2 separate regions of the Homo sapiens genome follow, and region 1 is linked to region 2. The links come from fine-mapping of genetic effects on gene expression. A gene starts in region 2. The other region holds a variant in brackets. All regions are shown on one strand. Distances are from middle to middle. Region 1 holds the start of SCAT2 (S-phase cancer associated transcript 2). Region 2 holds the start of NFE2 (nuclear factor, erythroid 2).

Region 1 (10,335 bases), 42 kb before region 2:
AGAAGGAGGTTGCAGTGAGCCAAGATCACGCCATTGCACACCAGCCTGGGCAATAAGAGCAAAACTCTTGTCTCAAAAAAAGAAAAGAAGTCAAGAAAAAAAATTCCTCACACAGTAACTTTCCCCAAAACCCACAGACCATATAGTTTACCATCCCAGAGGAAATTAACATACCAATATCAAAAGGTGTACCAAGACTATTACACAAGCCGAATACACTTGGGGGTTGGGAAGAATCTGTTGATAGCTAGAAAAGCCAGTCCTATAATGCGATTATCCCTTTTCCTAACACTTTGGTACTGCTGCTTCTACTTCAGTTTCCACCCAAAAGACAACATAGTATGATTTAAAAAGAGCCTGGGTTGGCCAGGAATAGTGATTCACACCTATAATCCCAGCACTTCAAGAGGCCAAGGCAGGCAGATCGCTTGAACCCAAGAGAGCGAGACCAGCCTGGGTAACACAGTGAGACCCTGTCTCTATTTTGAAGATAAAAAAGCAGGGCGTGGTGGCTCACGCCTGTAATCCCAACACTTTGGGAGGCTGAGGTGGGCGAATCACAAGGTCAGGAGTTCGAGACCAGCCTGGCCAACATGGTGAAATGCTGTCTCTACTAAAAATACAAAAAGTTAGCTGGGCGTGGTGGCAGGCACCTGTAATCCCAGCTACTCGGGAGGCTGAGGCAGGAGAATCGCTTGAACCCGGGAGGCGGAGGTTGCAGTGAGCTGAGATCGCGCCACTGAGCTCCAGCGTGGGCGATAGTGAGAGACTCTGTCTCAAAAAAAAAAAAAAAAAAAGATAAAAATATGTAAAAATTTAAATTAAAAAAAGAATTAAAGTTTTGAAAGAGGCAAGGGTCTTGCTATGTTAACCAGACAGGAGTGCAGTGGCTATTCACAGGTACGATCCTACTAATGCTCAAAATGGGAGTTCTGACCTGCTCTGGTTCACTCCTACTTAGGCAACCTGGTGGTCCCTCACTCCTGGGAGGTCACTATATTGATGCCAAACTTAATGCAGACACCTGATCGGTTTAGTGCACTACAGCCCAAAACTCCTGGACTCAAGCAATCCTCCCACTTCAACCTCCCTAGTAGCTGGGACCACGGGTACATACCACCATGCCTGGACTCTAAATGCTTTTGTGAGAATCGAAGAGAGCACAAGAGGTAGAATTTGATCACTGTCTAGCACAAAGTAGGCATTTAGTTATAGACAATGCTGATTTGTTCCAGTCTTTTATGAAATCCAGGGCATTTCTGAAAAAGGACCAATGTTTACTTTGTCTACCCCAAACCTTACCTTTTCCCCTTTCATCTATGGTAAGGTACCAGTAGCTCAATGACAGAGAAAGAGTTTCAAGTATCTTTCAAACACCCAAATATTTCCAGTGGAAATGGGCCCAATAAACATCTTCAAAATCTTCTGGTGTTACTTTAGTTCCTATCTGTTAGTGCTCTAGAGGTCTCTCAAACTTTAACAGTTCTCATCTCTAGTGGAAGCTGTGATACCACTCCTCTCTACAAACAGAGGGCATCTTCTGATTGTTGTGCTACCCATACTTGCACTCTGGGTGCTAGAGATGCTAAGCATCCTGCAATGCATGAATGATCCCACCTACAACGCCAATAATTCTCCAGATGAGAAACCTTGAGTCATGTAATGAAATAACCTCCAGTATGTTTCAAAGGTTCTTGACACATAGCCTTTATCCAAAAGTATTGGTAAACCACTGTATCTTTTAGTGTATTTAGGTCCTAGACTGCAGGAGCTGTGCCATCCAATATGGTAACCACTAGCCACATGTGCCTATTTGAAATGCAGCTAGTTTGAATGGAGATGCACTATAAAGTATAAAATACATCCCAGATTTTCAAGTCTTAGCACACACACACACACAAATTTCATTAATAACTTTTGTACTGATTAACGCTGAAATAGTATTTTTCACGTATTAGGTTAAATAAAATATTATTAAAATTAATTTCACAGCCAGGCACGGTGGCTCACGGCTGTAATCCCAGCACTTTGGGAGGCCAAGGCAGGTGGCTCACTTGAGCCTGGAAGTTCGAGACCAGCCTGAGTAACATGACAAAACCCTGCCTCTACTAAAAACACAGTCACCCAGGCTGGAGTGCAGTGGCGCAATCTTGGCTCACTGCAACCTCCGCCTCCTAGGTTCAAGTGATTCTCCTACCTCAGCCTCTGGAGTAGCTGGGATTACAGGGACCTGCCACCACACTTAATTTTTTTATTTTTAGTAGATGGAGTTTCACCATGTTGGCCAGGCTGGTCTCAAACTCCTGACCTCAGGTGATCCACCCGCCTCAGCCTCCCAAAGTGCTGAGATTAGAGTGCAAGCCACCACGCCTGGCCTTATAAGCACTACTGCTTATCCTTATTTCACTGAGGAGATAAAATGATTAAGGAAATTAGCCAAGGCCATCCAGTTTGTATCATAAGTGGTGGAGTTAGAATCTAGACCCAAGCAATCTGACTCTCGAGTCTGTGCTCCTAACCAATTCATTATACTGCCTTTCAAAAGCAGTATCATTAGAACGTAAGCTCCACAAGCGGAGAGATTTTGTTTTCTTTACTGCTGTGTCTTCTAACTCTTAGGAAGAGTGCAGGAGGGGGAAGAAAAAGACAAAAATGCTTGTGATTCCTAAGGAAGTAAACCAAAGGTATCTATCTCTACAGAGTCCCAACGCCTGGGGGAAAAAAGGAACTTACTCAGAAAAGCCTTTCCACTTCAGTAGATATTCCACTTGTCCCTTAACCACGCGCCTGTCTAGCACCTTCTCCACAACATACTCCTCCTCATCCTCTGAAGAAGAACTGTCAGCTGTCCGCTTGGTTTTCTTTCCCATGTCGCACACCGTTCCACCTGAAAGACTAAGGCCACCAGGTCCCTGCAAAGGCAAAGGACAAAATGGTTAGAATCCATGTGAGGAGTTAAAAACTTTGTCTTTTCTTGATGGGATGAAAAGGGGATAACACTGAGTTGCCATGTGCCCTGCTCTTGAGTCTCAAATCATTCTACAGATGAGTCCTAAGAGTTTAATTTAAAAATGAATCAGTCTTCACTTCCTCAACTACAACCTCCTCTTCGGCTAAAGAGACCAAAATTATTAGAAGGCACAACTGTTTAACTCTTCTATTTCAGATTCCAAAAGACAAGTAGTGTGGTATGTTATTCCTGGCTATGTTTGTAACTGTTTACAAGCCAGGAACTCAAACAGAAATGTGCAAAATCTTTAGTTAAATGAACCAAGATAAAATTAAAACCTTTTTCTCCAAGGTGAATAAGCGTCTTTATAAAAATGAAAAAAGAAAAGCCACTAAAATATGAGTTTTCTGTGCTCTGAGCATCTTGCCCAGTCTCTTAGCAGCACACAAAAAAGGCTTGCTTAGGCACCTTTCACCACATTTTCAGTGACTTGGTACATTTCCCTTAAACAAATTGAGCTTGTCCCTTCAGAGCATCCATCAGCTCACAAAAGCAAGGCTGACATCTCAAACACACTAATCTTCCTTTTTAGAAAGCTAATTTGGGGATGGGAGGGAGGCAGAAAGGAGAAAAAATTTTTCAGTCCTAAAATTCAAAATTAGTCACTAGATTATTCAGTAATTCCCAAGATGCAACTAACCCAAATAGTTAAGAAGGTACCTCTCCCTCTTAACTGAAGTTGACTCAGGGCCAAAGGAAGAGGAGGAGGAAAAAGAAGTCTGGCCCCAGACTCAGCATCAACATGAAGCCTCCTCAAAATACAGAGGAACCATTCATAGGCCCAAGGAAAGCTGAAGCAAGGAAACACAAATGGAAATTGAGTTAAGCTCAGAAATATGCACACCAGGGGGTACTCAACAGAGAATCTAGTTTTAAAAATTCCCATGTTGTTGTTCCATAATCATTTTTAAGAATTCTTCCTTAACCATGCTAAATGGTGCCTACAGTCTGGATTACAGAGTAGCAGAAATTGTTTTCTTAGCTGAACTCCATTATTATTTTCCTGTAATCTTTAAAGATGTTTATCAGCACCCTCTAAATATTTCCACCCTGACCAGAAAACCACTGGGTCAGGGAGGGCCCACTACTAACCTCAGAATGATGTTCAAGTCACATAAAAAGTGGCAATTATCAATTCACTTCAAATTAGCAAAATTTTAAAAATTATTACAAGAATATATAGT[T/TG]GGAGACCATATCTCCAGAACTTATTAGCTATAGGTCTGCCCACCTAAAAAACTGCCTATACCCATTACTGCCCTATAAGACTAAGTTTTTATTAAAATACTCTATTTGGAAGAGGAAGTAGTAGCAAAATGTAGGTGCGGGGGGGTTAAAATAATTTTTCCATGAATTTAGAAGAGTCCTAAGCTTCAAGAAAATATCTTATGTGCTTTATTTAAAATAAAACAGCCTCCAACCTCACCAGAGACAGGAAATGTCATATTCCAGGGAGAGTACCCCACCCCCACCACCACTCACCTTGGAATTTCCGGGAGCTGAGCAGTTTAGGTCAGAGCGCTGGGGTTAAAACCAGCCCCATGTTAGATGCATGCAGTTAAGCATTGTGGCTATGGCCTCCCCTGCCTCACCAGGAAAAACAAGGATTTACATGTGTTCTTCATTTTGAGGGAGAGACAAGGAAAATCTCCCTTTATACCTTCATGCAGAAGAGGAGCCCCAAAGGTAGAAAATGAATGGGGGTTCCCTCCTTTACCTACCGGATCGCCCCAGTTCTTTCTTTCCCTCTGGGCTAACAGGAGGGGCCTCCCCTCCCAGGTCTGGGTCTTGGCGGGCTGGCAGCTCCCCTGCCCCCACCCAGCTGCCTGGGCGCCACTGCGCAGCTGTCCCAGTCCGTTGCCATAGCAACTGGCAGCAGTACTACACTAAGGGGGAGAAGCAAATGGAAAAGTTAAAAGGCTTAACTTTCCTTTTCAGTGAAGACTGGGTGGAGAAATTGGAAGGTACCTCTCTTGGCCTCAAGGCTAAGGCATTCAGAGCTTAAGGGAATTACTTCTTAGGTTTTAAATCCAGTATTTATGCTTATTCCTCTAACAGCACTGTGAATTAATCAATAACATTTTAAGATCATCTAACAAGATTACAGCTCAACTGAAGGGGGAGGGGAAAGGCTCGATCCTTCTACAACACGATCAGTACAAACCACCCATCACTTAATCCAGCCCACCAGAGCACTTTGGGCAATCCCATTTTACCGTCTGTCACAGAACAGTTAATTAAAATTGCTTGAGGGGAAAAATAACAGGAAACAGGGGAGGGGAAGTATTTTAAAGACACTATATAACTTTCCTTCTTTGGGGGGATTACTAGAGACAAAATCCAAAGACATGAAGCACTACCAAAACAACAACCAAAAAAAAAAAAAAAAAAAACCCCTTTTAACTAAAATTAGAGGTGGAGGGCCAGGTGCAGTGGCTCATGCCTGTAATCCCAGAACTTTGGGAGGCCGGGACGGGGCAATCATTTGAGGTCACGTGCTCAAGACTAGCCTGACCAACGTGGTGAAACCCCGTCTCTACTAAAAATACAAAAAAATTAGCCAGGTGTGGTGGCAGGCGCATATAGTCCCAGCTCCTCAGGGGGCTGAGGGAGGAGAAATCGCTTGAACCCAGGAGGCAGAGGTTGCAGTGAGCCTAGATCGCACCACTGCACTCCAGCCTGGGCGACAAGAGTGAGACTGTCTCGAAAAAATAAAACAAAATGAATTTAGGTGGAAAAAAATTCCTAAGAAGCTTAAAAAAAAAAAAGAGGAGAGCAGTTCTGCCACAACCTAATGGTTGATAAATTTAAACCACTTATAGGTTGCTCTATAATGTTATAAAACAGATTTTTAAATAATTATTCATCACCTGATACATTATTAATATACAACTCTCTGTATCAGTATGTCTCAATACTTGAGAAAAGGAGTACTAGGATAAATAAAAAAGATATATAGAGACTTGAAATACTGTAAGTTTTCCATTCTTCTGGCTCTAAAGAACATTTTAGAGAGCTCCAAAACTCTACTCTGCTTTATAGATGTGGGAACTTTAAAGCCAGAAGTGGCTGCCATAGGAGAGTAAGAAAAAGGGACAATCAAAAGCAAAGAACTCAGTTGAGCCAGGAACAGTGGCTCACACCTGTAATCCCAGCACTTTGGGAAGCCGAGGCAGGTGGATTACCTGAGGTCAGGAGTTCGAGACCAGCCTGACCAACATGGTGACGCCCCATCTCTACTAAAAATGCAAAAATTAGCCAGACATAGTAGCACTTGCCTGTAATCCCAGCTACTTGGGAGGCTAAGGCAGGAGAATCGCTTGAACCTGGGAGGCAGAGGTTGCAGTGAGCCGAGACTGCGCCACTGCACTCCAGCCTGAGCAACAAGAGCGAAACCGTCTCAAAAAAAAAAAAAAAAGAACTCAGTTGAGAAGAAGCACAATGGTGACTATTACGACTGTCAAACAGAAGAAACCATAGGGTGTAAGACCAAAGTAGAAATTTTTTTCTTTTTTCTTTTTTTTTTTTGAGACGGAGTCTCGCTCTGTCACCAGGCTAGAGTGCTGTGGCGCCATCTCGGCTTACTGCAACCTCCAACTCCCTGGTTCAAGGGATTCTCCTGCCTCAGCCTCCCAAGTAGCTGGGATTACAGGCATGTGCCACCACGCCCAGCTAATTTTTGTATTTTTAGCAGAGATGGGGTTTCATCATGTTGGCCAGGATGGTCTCGATTTCCTCATCTTGTGATCCGCCCACCTGGGCCTCCCAAAGTGCTGGGATTACAGGCATGAGACACTGCACCCGGCCAGAAATTTTTTAATTACAAAAGATTTCCTCAGATTTGAATGGACCATCAGCAAACCTCCAATTAAAAACGGCATTTTTCAACTCTTACCTTTTAACTTTTCATAATTAAGGGATATAAAAACAATAACAAACATTTAAATAGGATCCTGACTCTGATTAACTTGCCATGTGTTATCCTGAGTAAATAAATTTTCCATCTAACCCCGGCATCATTTAAACGGGCTAAATAAATCTGTACTACCTGCCCTACGTACCTCCGAGGGAAAAAGTGAGTTTATGTTGAAACCAAAGATCTATTAAGTCCCCCAAAAAGAACCTTCTGTAAAAATATGTCAGGGCTGAATACAACAGCAGAAGAAAATATGTGACCTTCCAAATTCCTAAGCTAGTAAACCATATCACATGCAGTAACTCCTGCAGCTCAACACATTAGTAGATAGCAAGAAAAAGAGGAACAGTGTCTTTGTTAACTAGGCACTGGAAAACGAATAAACCTTCAGAGAACAGGGTAGGTACGTTCTCTCTCAAGGGCAAAATACTTATTCCTTAAAACTCAGACAAACTTTAAAGATGGCAGAATGAAAAGACTAATAGTAACTCTGTGAAGGAATAAGGAACAGGAGAGAATGACAGCAATACTAACATTTTGGTGAAACCTTTCAGAGAAAGAAAAGTGAATTTAATGAGGAAAGAGACAAAAATATTCTGGTGTCCACCCCTCCCCACAAAACATCAGAAAATAAAGATTGAGTTCAATTCCCTCCTTTCCACCCTTAAGAACTGCCTAAAGGGCACATGGGCCGAGGTCCTTTTCTTTTTGGGAAATGGGTTTTGTAACCACTGACAAATCGAATTGGGCCTGATGCCAGGAGTCAGAGTACAACCATAATATTCTTTAAAGGATGGCATGCAATTGTCTTGTAAATCTCCTAGACAGTCACAGATCAGAAGCTGGCAAGGATGACGACATAGTTCTGATGGAATGTGTCTTATCTTAACCTTGAAGTTACAGATCTGCTCAGGAGCAGCAGTAAGAAATGAGAAATGCACTCAGACATCGGAGGGGACATAATTCTCTTTTAGACAGTGTGACCCGGAGTATTAGGGTCAAATGAAACACAAAGCCAGTCAAACAATTTAAGGGCTAGAGCCTAGACCAGATAAAGCATCAAGACTGGTGGTTCACACTGAGCTTAGGAGGAGGGAGCTTTCCAGCATGAGAAATGAGACATGGCTGGCAGGATGATGGAGTGATTAAGATAGAATCCCAATACCATGACAGAGGAAAAGAAGATGAGCCTCTGAACACAACCTTATCCTTGTGGAAATCTCCAAGGGAAAGGGTGAGTAGCTTCTCAAATTTCTGGAGTCTTTCAGGCATAACAGCTCTCAGCCTTCTCTCTTAAATATACATAGGAACTATCTGGTAAAGCTACCAATAACTATAGATTACAGCACCTAAGGCCCATTGAGATGAGAAAAGAGGCTGGGCGCGGTGGCTCACGCCTGTAATCCCAGCACTTTGGTAGGCCGAGGCGGGCAGATCTCCTGAGGTCAGGAGTTCCAGACCAACCTGGCCAACATGGTGAAACCCTGTCTCTACTAAAAATACAAAAATTAGCCAGGTGTGGTGGCAGGCACCTGTTATCTCAGCTACTTGGGAGGCTGAGGCAGGAGAATCACTTGAACCCAGAAGATGGAGGTTGCAGTGAGCCGAGATCAAGCCATTGCACTCCAGCCTGGACAACAAGGGCAAAACTCCGTCTCAAAAAAAAACCAAACAAAAAACTTATCAGTCCTCAGCAATTACAGAGAGGGCATCACAAGCAAGCTAGGGCAACCCAGAAAAACAAGAGGTAGGCCGGCACAGCGGCTCTCGCCTGTAATCCCAGCACTTTGGGAAGCCAAGGCAGGTGGATCATGAGGTCAGGAGTTTGAGACCAGCCTGGCCAACATGGTGAAACCCCGTCTCTACTAAAGACACAAAAAAATTAGTCAGGCGTGGTGTAATCCCAGCTACTCGGGAGGCTGAGGCAGTTACGCACCTGTAATCCCAGCTACTCAGGAGGGTGAGGCAGGAGAATCGCTTAAACGGGAGGCGGAGGTTGCAGTGAGCTGAGATCGCGCCACTGCACTCCAGCCTGGGCAACAGGGTAAGACTCTATCTCAAAAAAAAAAAAAAAAAAAAAGAAAAGAAAAAAGAAAAAAAAAGGCCAGGCGCAGTGGCTCACGAGGTCAGGAGATTGAGACCATCCTGGCTAACATGGTGAAACCCTGTCTCTACTAAAAATACAAAAAATTAGCCAGATGTGGTGGCGGGAGCCTGTAGTCCCAGCTACTGGGGAGGCTGAGGCAAAAGAATGGTGTGAACCCAGGAGGCGGGGCTTGCAGTGAGCCGAGATCGCACCACTGCACTCCAGCCTGGGAGACAGCGTGAGACTCCGTCTCAAATAAAAAAGAGGTAATGGTTAGCCCTCAGCATTGACCGTTTAATGCTGGAAGAACCCACATAGGGTCCCTGGTATCTGTCTGCTTTGTCCAGTTCAGGTTCTACTCTCATCCCTCCAGTCATTTCTTTTTTGAGACAGGGCCTCGTTCTGTTGTTCAGGCTGCAGTGCAGTGGTGCGGACAGTTTATTGCAGTCTCAAACTCCTGGGCTCAAGCAATCCTCTCACCTTGGCCTTCTGAGCAGCTGGGACCACAGGGGCACGCCACCATGCCTGGCTACATTTTTTTATTTTTTGGTGAGATGCAGTCTCACTGTGTTGCCCAAGCTGGTCTCAAACTTCTGGGCTGAAGCAATCCTCCTGCCTTACCCCCACAAAGCAGTCACTACTTCTCAATACCAATTCTGGTGGCTTTTCTTATCTTGTTATAGTCATTTCATTTTCATCACCACTTATGAGCAAAAGTACACATAATTCTAGATCTTTCACTAAGCTTTCTTCTTATTAAGAATGAAAGCCAGCCGGGCGCAGTGGCTCATGCCTGTAATCCCAGCACTTTGGGAGGCCAAGGTGGGTGGATCACCTGAGGTCGGGAGTTTGAGACCAGGCTGGCCAACATGGCGAAACCCCATCTCTACTAAAAATACAAAAATTAGCCAGGTGTGGTGGCAGGTGCCTGTAATCCCAGCTACTGGGGAGGCTGAGGTAGGAGAATCGCTTGAATCTGGGAGGTAGAGGTTGCAGTGAGCCAAGATTGCGCCACTGCACTCTAGCCTGGGAGACAAGAGTGAAACTCCATCTCAAAGAAAAAAAAAAAGAAAAAGAAAGCCAATTGGTAAGCTGCCTCACTGAACTACCCACTGAATTAAAGATGGTAATCAAACCAAATGTCAAGATGCATAATCAATGAGCTCTCCATTGTAGAGTTTCAACATAAATTCTATAAGCCCCCTAACTAAGCAAAATCCTTTAGGAAGTAAGCCAGGGTTAAAGAGCAGAGGAGAGCGCATATGCAAAGCTCCCTATCACATGGATTAATTAGATATGCCATTGATGAGTGGTTGCAGTTGGCCC
Region 2 (10,335 bases):
TTCTCAGCAAACCCTCACCCGTGTCTTTATCTTCTTCTGTCAGTCCCTCTCCTCATGCTACCTCCCTATTCCCTGACACCCACCTTCCTTGCATCTGTTTTCCCTGCCGTCAGCAAGAGATTCCAAGTAGATTTGGCAAGGTCTTCCTGATCTCTACGGTCAGACATTGTGTCTATGTGCACGCACACAGACATACCGTGCCATATCAGTATAGGGAAGCAGGCTAGGATGAAGGAAACATGGGAGAGGGGAAGCACTTTGGGAGGCCAAGGTGGAAGGATTGCTTGAGCCCAGGAGTTTGAGATCAGCCTGAGAAACACGGTGAAAACCCATCTCCACTAAAAATGCAGAAATTAGCTAGGCATAATGGCACACATCTGTGGTCCCAGCTACTCAGGAGGCTGAGGTGGGAGGATCACTTGAACCTGAAAGGTCACGGCTGCAGTGAGCCATGATTGTGCCACCGCACTCGAGAGCCTGGGTGACAGAGCAAGACCCTGTCTCAAAAAAAAAAAAAAAAAAAAAAAACGGCCAGGTGCAGTGGCTCACACCTGTAATCCTAGGACTTTGGGAGGCTGAGGCAGGTGGATCACCTGAGGTCAGGAGTTCGAAACCAGCCTGGCCAACATGGTGAAACCCCCATCTCTACTAAAAATACAAGTAATAGCCAGGCTTGGTGGTGGGCGCCTGTAATCCCAGCTACTCAGGAGGCTGAGGCAGGGAGAATTGCTTGAACCCGGGAGGCGGAGGTTGCAGTGAGCTAAGATCGCACCACTGCACTCCAGCCTGGGCGACAGAGTGAGACTCTGTTTCGGAAAAAAAAAAAAAAAAAAAAAAAAAGAAAAGAAAGAAAAAGAAGGACAGAGGATAGGATTGTATGACCTCAAATTGCATGACCTTAGACCACTCACCACAAGGATGGCCCATCACAGCAATTTAATATGGAATCTTCTCTTCGACTTACCACAAAATTAGTAGGAACTACAAATGATCCTTTTGAAAGAGTATCTCCCCTAGCCCTTGCCTCCATCCCCTTGTTTTACTGCCATCCCCAGAGATGGGAGTTGGTGTAGGCAACTCTGCCAGTGGGCAGAGTGGGTGGGGTGTTTATGTCTGTCCAGGATGCCATTTCAACACCGGAACCCCACCCTCCTCCACCCAGGTTCTGGCGGAAATTGCCCAAAGGCAAAGTGAATGGAGAAGGGGTTTAGGAGGCAGAGACAATGACTCTTGCTTCACAGTTCTTTACTCACCCCAATCCCCCCATTTGTCTCTCCTTTTATCTTCTTGGATCTGACTCTAAGGTGCAGTACAAAGATCCTGCCCTAGGAGGCCAGAGACCTAGGTTCTCTGGCACTTAAGATACAAGACCTTGCTACGCACGGTGGCTCACGCCTGTAATCCCAGCACTTTGGGAGGCCAAGATGGGAGGATTACCTGAGGTCGGGAGTTCAAGACCAGCCTGACCAACATGGAGAAACCTTGTCTCTACTATAAATACAAAATTAGCCGGGCATGGTGGCGCATGCCTGTAATCCCAGCTACTTGGGGGGATGAGGTGGGAGAATCGCTTGAACCCAGGAGGCGGAGGTTGTGGTGAGCCAAGATCATGCCATTGCACTCCAGCCTGGGCAACAAGAGTGAAACTCCACATCAAAAAAAAAAAAAAAAAAAAAAAGATACATGACCGTGGGCAAATTGCTTCTCATTCAGTCCCTTCCATTAAATGGAGACAGGACTAGGAACCTAATTGCTATTAAAGGCCATAGGTTGCATCTAGCTCAGGGAGTCACAAACTTCATTGTGTGCCACATTCACCTGGGCTACATGTAAAGACACAGATTCCTAAAAGCCACTTCAAATCTACTGAATTGAATCCATAAACCCAGGAATCAGCATTTTAAAAGTGCCTCAGTGGCCAGGTGTGGTGGCTCACACCTGTAATCCCAGCACTTTGGGAGGCTGAGGTGGGTGGATCACCTGAGGTCAGGAATTTGAGACCAGCCTGGCCAACATGGCAAAACCCCATCTCTACTAAAAATACAAAAATTAGCCAGGTCTGGTGGCGCACACCTGTAATCCCAGCTACTCAGGCGGTTGAGGCATGAGAATTGCTTGAACCTGGGCGGTAGAGGTTACGGTGAGCTGAGATCATGCCACTACACTCCAGCCTGGGCAACAGAGTAAGACTCTGTCTCAAAAAAAAAAAAAAAGAAGGGGAGCAAGGGGAGGCAGGAGTTTGGGGGAGAGAGAGTTGAGGAGAACCTCTGGATCCATTCCAACCAGCTCTTGGGTGCAGTAGCAAGTTTGTACCAGGTGGCAGGTGGAGCAGGATGCTTTTCCCTAGACGCTCAAGGATGGATGGTGTTCTATACACCAGGCATAGGGTCCCTCTGGGTTTCCAGAGCCTACCTTTCAGAGGACAGCAGAGCTGGCAGGCAGTGGGATAGATCAGGGAGATAGATAGAATTGGATCAAATAGAACACCATAGAGGGTATAGAAACTGGGGAGATACTGGGAAAGTGAAGTGGGCTTCCCTGTGTTCCCTTTCTTTTACAATAAGAAGCTCCCACTTTACAGTTTAGCTTTTGCATTTTGGGGTCACACCACCATCTTACTCCCACTGGGTTGTCTGTTCCTTCTCTTACTCCCCAACATTATGGATTAGGTAGAAATGGGGTTGTCACCAGGGACTAAAGTCCATCCTCCTTACTCTTAGCCTGGTGGTCCTACCCAGAAAGATTTTTATCATAATCCCTAAGTACTCACAGAATGATACGGAGCTTCATGATTAGGAATACAGAGTGAGGACTATTCGGAGAGGGATGATGGAGAGAGGAATACATTTGGCCTTAGCTGCTGCCCCAGGGCTCTTAACTTCCTTAACGAGGGGGAACGATGAGAGGGGGCTTGCCTCAGGATCCCTTTTCTGAGGCTTATTTGACCACCTCACCTCTCCAGGTGTCAATAGGTGCAGTGAAAGGATGAGGAGGGATTAGTAAAACTTGGGGTATTGGTTAACCGGTAAGCAACCTATTTAGAAAGATTAGGGAGAACTCCCGAAGAGAGAGAGACACACAGAGATGAGACAGAATGAAGGGGAAAAAAAGGAGGGAGAGAGATTTAAGCATAGTGAGCTCAGTGCCCTAGGGACATGCATGACTCAAACAAATGTGTGAGAACAAAGAAGAGGGGGACGAGTTTCTGCTATTGTGTCACTTCATCCCTGGACCCCAAACTCCAGTCCTTTGGTACCGATGTCTAGGGGATCCCAGCCCCAGCAGTTCTGATACCTCCTCTCTTCTCTTCCACTGCTTCCCAAGCCCCTATTTCCCAAGCAGCCAAGAGTTCCAGTTAGAAGCAACTATGCTGGGGTTGGGATGTCTTCCTTCTCCCTCCAGGTCCAGCTGATCTCTACTGCCCCTGGGCACAGAGAAGAGAAAGGGCAAAGGAGCCAACAACCCAGAGGCAATCTCCCATCCAACCCCCGCACCTTGCAACACTTCTCAGAGGTTCAGATATCCAGTGTTTCCAATTCCTCAGCTTTCCCTAAACCTTCTCAGCTGCCTAGACAGGGCAGAGTAATGGAATGGAGTTGGGGAAAGGGTAGTCTATTGGTTCCCTCAGGGTAGCCCACCAGTTGAAGGATTCCTCCTGGCTACTCCCCAGCCCCTCAGCGGTGCCTTGCCTCTGGAGACCCCTCTCTGATCCCCATTCACAGCCTCCACCCCAAGGATCCCAGAGCACCCAAGAAACCACTTAGGTCTTCTCCTAGAGGAGTTCCCAAATATGTCAGATTCCTAAACCAGGGGCAATCTAGAAAGTCTGAGGTCTCCTAGGATACCGAAAGTTGGTTATTTTCCCCCCTCACCTCCTTCACCCCCCAGCCTGCCCCTCGGATCTCACTGGAATCCGCCCCCCCCACACACACCCTGCCTTTCAGGCACCTGTGGTGGAGTCACAGCAGGGTGAGGAGAGAGATGAGGCTCCCGGTGTTGTCTCTGGGGAGGCTGAGCCTGAGCTGACACTGCTGGACGAGGATCCCGGCTACCTTTGAGAATCTGCGAGGACCGCGCCCCGCCCCCGGGCCATTGCTGAGCGCTGAGTGTGGAAGCTCAGGCTGAGCTGAGCACAGGAGCCCCAAGCAGGCGCACCAGCGTCTGAAGCCCTCGGCCTGAGTTCTCAGTCCTTCCTCCAACCCTCCCCTTTCCCCGTGGCTCTCCTCTCCTCCTGCCCCTTTCGGCCAAGAGAGGAAACTTGAGCCCGATGTGGTTTCTGCCCACACCCCGCCCCCACCTTGCTCCTGGCCAGCGGGGGCACACATGGCTCCAAGCCTCTCCCAGCCCTCCTTTTCAGCCCAGGAGTCCAGCCAGGTCTGCGTTTCTCCCATGCATTTGACGAATTCCAACCTGATGGTCCACTCGAATGTGACCTTTAAACTTTATACAGGTTGTCGTCGCCTTGTGTCCCCACGGCTCTCCTAGGGACAGGGAAACTGAGTCATATCAAGGTGGAAGGCAGCTGAAGGTAAGGACCAGGTGTCTAGCTTCCCAGCTGTCTAGGCAGTTGGACGTTTAGGGTATAGCCTTCATTTACAGAAAACCTGGGCTCTGGGAACAAGGGCAGGGGAACTATTTGGAGGAGGAGGGGCAACTGACTGCTTTGATGTGTCCTTTCACCTGTAGCCTTCTCCCCTCCCCCCTCAGCCTCAGAAGTCCCAGGACAAAGGATTCTTTCTTGGCCAGGTTTTTGTCAGTGTGTGAAGGGAGTTAGGTGGGGGGCCACCCAGCAGGGAGATTATTCACCTCCCGTAAAGGGGACCCCAGGTGTCCTTTGTCCTCCTTTCTCCCAGGCAAAGCACCCCAGCCACATGGCACCCAACTCTGTTAGGCCAGTAAGTACCCTTATTCATCTTTTTTTTTTTTTTTTTCCAGAGAGGGGCTCACTCTGTCTCCCAGGCTGGAGTGCAGTGGTGTGAACATGTTTCACTACAGTCTCAAACTCCCAGGCTTAAGCAATCCTCCCACCTCAGCCTCCCAAGTAGCTGGTTCTATGGGTCAGTGCAACCATGCCCAGCTAATTTTTTTTTTTTTTTTTTTTTTTGGTAGAAGTGGTGTCTCACTATATTGCCTTGGCTGGTATTGAATTCTTGGGCTCAAGCAATCCTCCCCTCTTGGCCTCCCAAAGTGCTGGGATTACAGGCATGAGCCACCTCACCCAGCCCACTTATTCATCTTTTTGCCTGCAAGCTACACCACCAAAGCCCCAGGTCAAACATCTTTCTCCACAGACTGTGAGAAAAGAGCCTTTCTTCCTCCTAATTTGTAATGGCTTTCAGCTCTATATGTCTAGCTTCAATCCTGACATCTGCAGCTTACATTTTTTCTTCTTACAATGTTCAAGTTAAATTAGAAACATCTGAAGACTGGGGAAGCAGATAGGTGCCACTCTGGAGTAGGACTGGCATTCAACCAGCATGCTCTGATGGGATTGTATTTGCTGTTAAAATAATGAAAATGTTCAGTCCTAGTTGATAAAAGGCAGCTGCTGTGAGCCCTCTAAGTGTCCCCCACGACTCCACCAATAGCCTAGTTCTCCTCTAAGATCCCCAACAACCCAGCAACACAACCATGGAAGTAAAGAGGCAATGCTGGTACCATAAGGAGCCTCCTGTGCTGCCTGCTTCTGCTGGAATTGGCCAATGCCCATGCCAAACCTATGGTTAAATGCTTTGAATTCCATCCCTTTTCCAGTAGATCATGACTGCACATGCATGATCAAGGTAAGACAGGAGGCAATCCAATGCCTTCATTACATGTTACATGTGGGTTCAGAATCTCTTCAGACTTGGGCATGAATCTGGGTCACATATGTAGGCTCTCAGATATAATTCTCTCATTTGCATATTTATTTGGGCCACTCAGAGGGGATGAAGAATGGTAACAGTCACACTTGTGGCTGACTATATAATGATATCAGGTTATAGATAGTCAACAAACATTTATTGAATAAGAATTATCAGTTCAGGATACTGGTGTTGCATAGACAATTATGGGTAACACAAGGCTCATCATTCATTCATTCAACAAATATTTATTGAGTGTCTACTATGTTTTACATCCCAGGAACACAAAGATGAGCAAGACAGTCTGTATCTTCAGTCAAGTCTAGTCAGGGAATTACATTAATAAGGTGTATATAATAAAATAAAATAAAATAGGCCAGGCACGGTGGCTCATGCCTGTAATCCCAACACTTTGGGAGGCTGAGGCTGGCAGATCACCTGAGGTCGGGCGTTCGAGACCAGTCTGACCAACATGGTGAAACCCCTTCTCTACTAAAAATACAAAAATTAGCCAGGCGTGGTGGCATGTGCCTGTAATTCCAGCTACTCAGGAGGCTGAGGCAGGAGAATCACTTGAACCCAGGAGGTGGAGGTTGCAGTGAGCTGAGATCGTGCCACTGCACTCCAGCCTGGGCGACAGAGCAAGACTCTATCTAGAAAAAAAAAAAAAATTTGAATTAAAAAAATAAAGGTGTATATACAGTGCTATGGAGAAGAAGAGGAAATAAATTCTGCCCAGTGAAATTCAAGGAAGGCTTTACAGAGGAGGTGACAATTAAGTTAGGCTGTGGAGAAAAACTAGGAATTTCCCAGGCAGAGAAGTGGAAAAGAGTATTCCAAGCAAAGATGTGAAGGCATGGAGGCATAAAATACAGAGCAATACTTTGGGTTTGCTAGGTTGGGGTATGGGATGGGAAGTAGGAGAAGATAAGCCTGGAAAATTTGACAGGGGCTAAATTATACAATGTCTTGAGAGTCAATCTAGGGAGAGTGTACTTTATCCTATAAATAGTAGGGATTCATAGAAGTGTTTGAGGTCATCTACTACTTATTTGAAGGGACAGACATAGTCAAGTAGGGTGTTCTAAGTGAAGAGACAGCCTTCCTTCAATAAGGTGACTGGCTAGGTGGAGATGTCTCTCCCATCTCACCCTCACTCCTCTCCTACAGAAAAAGAGGACTTCACTGTGGTTCTCAGGCTGTGTTCTGGAGGCAGAACACCCTTTACAGCCCTCAAAGGAGGGGATGGTTCCTTTAGCCCCTTCCTCTCAGATTCCTGAAATCCAGACCAAACACCTTTCTACCTTAAGTCTCCTTTGTTTGATTTACAAATTGCAAAACATTAGGAGCCAGCCTGAATGGGTTGGATAGTGCCTAAGACTTGGTAAAGCAGGGATGTCTAAGGTTTTCCTATCCTCAAGATTCTCCCACTTCATCAAAGGTAGCAGAGACAGAATACGATACGGAGAAAACCACGGCCACATATCTTTACTATTTTATCATTCTCCACGTATGCTGCTAACCCACTCCCTAAAAGATTCACTTCTTGTCACACCTGGTCAACCCACCCCTACCCTCACCCTCATAACGTGTGTGTACACCACCAGCAGCAGCAGGTCAAGCCACAAGCAATGTTGCCAAACACCCCACTGAGTTATGCAACCAGCTTCCCGAGAAGGGCGGGGTGGGTAGAGGTGGAACCAGGGGAGGGCCATGGGTCCCAGAGGGAGCTGGCTGCCTTGCCTGCTTGCCTGCTGGTCTGACCGCAGTGGCCCCAGAGGGTGGGGGCAGGGCTGGCCCTTTATCAGTGCCCTGCAGGGTTGCACCCAACACCCCCTGGCTTCCTCTCTCAACAGACGGAAAGGGGAGGCAGCCACAGGGGGCAAGGGGAGGGCTGGGCGTTATCCTAGGCAGCAGAGCCGGGCGGTTACCCCGATGCTTGGGGGAGGTGGTAGAGGGGTCTGGGACCAAGGAATAGCGAGGCCCCTCTTAGCGGGGGGCCCTGGTATACACAGAGGCTCAGATGGTGGACTAGATTTTCTGAAGCATATAACTCATTGTTCCTTGTGTTCCAGTTTGGGTAAGGATAGGATTTAAAAAAGTCTTTGAGGAGGTTTCTTTCCTCAGATAACAATTTTTAGACGATTGACTCAGGAGTTAAGGGGAGACTGAACCCCATTCTCAGGACAAAAGGGTTTGGGGCTTTCAAGGGAGTTAGATACGACTGAGGTTCCCAGACCCTGGCATCTAAGAGTTAATGCCCTTTAGCAGAGCCTAGTACTAACACCAAAATGGATGAAGGCTGATAGATAAACCTAGTATAGTCCCAGAAGAAATAATCCCTGGGGCTTAATTCTACTGTATTTTATTATTATTGTTATTATTATTATTATTATTATTTTGAGATGGAGTCTTGCTCTGTCACCCAGGCCGAAATGCACTGGTGTGATCTCGGCTCACTGCAGCCTCCGCCTCCCGGTTTCAAGCGATTCTCCTGCCTCAGCTTCCCAAGTAGCTGGGATTACAGGCGCCTGCCACCACGCCCAGCTAATTTTTGTATTTTTAGTAGAGATGGGGTTTCACCATGTTGGCCTGGGGCTTAATTCTAAATCTAGAAAGAGAAGTAGTTTCACGGTGCATCATAGATCTTGAGTCTTATTAGTGGGCTTGAGGCTGGGCACAGTGGCTCACACCTCTAATCCCAGCACTTTGGGAGGCTGAGGAAGGAGAATCATTTCAGCCTAGGAGTTTGAGACCAGCCTGGGCAACATAGTGGGACCCTGGTTCTACAAAAAATTAAAAAAAAAATAGCCGGGCATGATGGCATGCACCTGTACTCCTAGCTACTCAGAAGGCTGAGGTGAAAGGATGGCTTGAGCCCAGGAGGTTGAGGCTGCAGTGAGCTGTGATTGTGCCAGTGCACTCCAGCCTGGGTGACAGAGCAAAACCCTGTCTCACAAAAACAAAATAGGCCGGGCGCGGTGGCTCACGCCTGTAACCCCAGCACTTTGGGAGGCTGATGCAAGCGGATCACCTGAGGTCATGAGTTTGAGACCAGCCTGGCCAACGTGGTGAAACCCCGTCTCTACTAAAAATACAAAAATAAGCCGGGTGTAGTGGCACATGCCTGTAATCCCAGCTACTCAGGAGGCTGAGGCAGGAGAATCACTTGAACCTGGGAGACAGAGGTTGCAGTGAGCCGAGATCATGCCACTGCAATCCAGCCTGGGTGACAGAGCGATATTCCATTTCAAAAATAAATAAATAAATAACATATAAAATGAAATAAAAAGACTTGGGGGCTGGGCATGGTGGCTCATGCCTGTAATCTCAGCACTTTGGGAGGCCGAGGCAGGTGGATAACTTGAGGTCAGGAGTTCGAGACCAGCCTGGCCAACATGGCGAAAGCCTGTCTCTACTAAAAATATAAAAATTAGCTGGGTGTGGTGGCGGGCGCCTGTGGTCCCGGCTACTTGGGAGGCTGAGGCAGGAGAATTGCTTGAACCCAAAAGGCGGAGGTTGCAGTGAGCCGAGATCGCACCATTGCACTCTAGCCTGGGCAACAGAGTGAGACTCTGTCTCAAAAAAAAGAAGACTTGGGCTTGGTGTCGAGTGTGGTGGCTTGAACCTGTAGTGCCAGGTACTCAGGAGGCTGAGCTGGGAAGATCACTTGAGCCCAAGAGTTTGAGGTTACAATGAGCTATACTCCAACCACTGTACTCTAGCCTAGGTGACAGAGCAAGACCCTATCTCTAAAAAAACAAACGAAGAAACTTGGGCTTGGGTCCTGGCATTTATTGGCTATGTAGCCTTGGGTAACCCAACTTTTCTGTTTTTTTTGTTTTTTTTTTTTTTGAGAGGGAGTTTTGCTCTTGTTGCCAGGCTGGAGTGCAATGGCATGATCTCAGCTCACTGCAACCTCCACCTCCCAGGTTCAAGCAATTCTCCTGCCTCAGCCTCCTGAGTAGCTGGGATTACAGGCGCATGCCAAGATGCCCAGCTAATTTTCTGTTTTTTTTTCAGTAGAGATGCGGTTTTATCATATTGACCAGGCTGGTCTCTAACGCCCGACCTCAGGTGATCCACCCACCTCAGCCTCCAAAGTGCAGGGATTACAGGTGTGAGCCACCAACCAAGCCCGGCCAACCTAACCTTTCTGAGCTTTATTTCCTTTCTGAGCTTTATTGAAAAATGGAGACAATAATGAGAATGCCCACTTAGCGAAGTTGTTAGGAAGATAAAATGGGATCAATACAAAAATTAGTCTGTTACTTATTAGATGAAAGCTTAGATACCTGGAGGCCAGAGTGACCCAAGGGCTTGAGGAACTTCGAATGCCCTATCTGGAGGTCAGACTCTGGTAGAGAGATGCTTGGGATAAACTGAAGCCAGTAAAGAGCCTGATTCTGGGGGAGAGCAAGAGCTAGGCTGCACTAGTGTTGGCGGGGAGGGGTGGTGGCTAGACTTCCAGGAACTAGCCTGCAGGCCG

What was found. PIP is the estimated chance that this variant, and not a neighbour inherited with it, causes the effect. A credible set is the group of variants that fine-mapping cannot tell apart.
Region 1: its variant is the best candidate, but not a certain one, in a credible set for the expression of NFE2 in blood mononuclear cells (TOPMed, PIP 0.63).

Annotation. Positions count from the first base shown.
Region 1 is chr12:54,254,781-54,265,115 of GRCh38, forward strand. CBX5 (chromobox 5) reads right to left here. Exons shown (of 5, transcript NM_012117.3): 2 at 2,734-2,912. The coding sequence starts at 2,870. It overlaps SCAT2 (S-phase cancer associated transcript 2), which reads left to right and starts at 7,835. Exons shown (of 2, transcript NR_157844.1): 1 at 7,835-8,157. It also overlaps the pseudogene RN7SL390P. RefSeq lists enhancers at 1,683-2,344, 4,538-4,707. The variant T/TG (reference allele first, on the strand shown) is at 4,195.
Region 2 is chr12:54,296,853-54,307,187 of GRCh38, forward strand. NFE2 (nuclear factor, erythroid 2) reads right to left here and starts at 4,163. Exons shown (of 3, transcript NM_001136023.3): 1 at 3,949-4,163. RefSeq lists cis regulatory regions at 3,935-4,909, 6,709-7,209, 7,389-7,909, 10,129-10,335 and an enhancer at 4,310-5,050.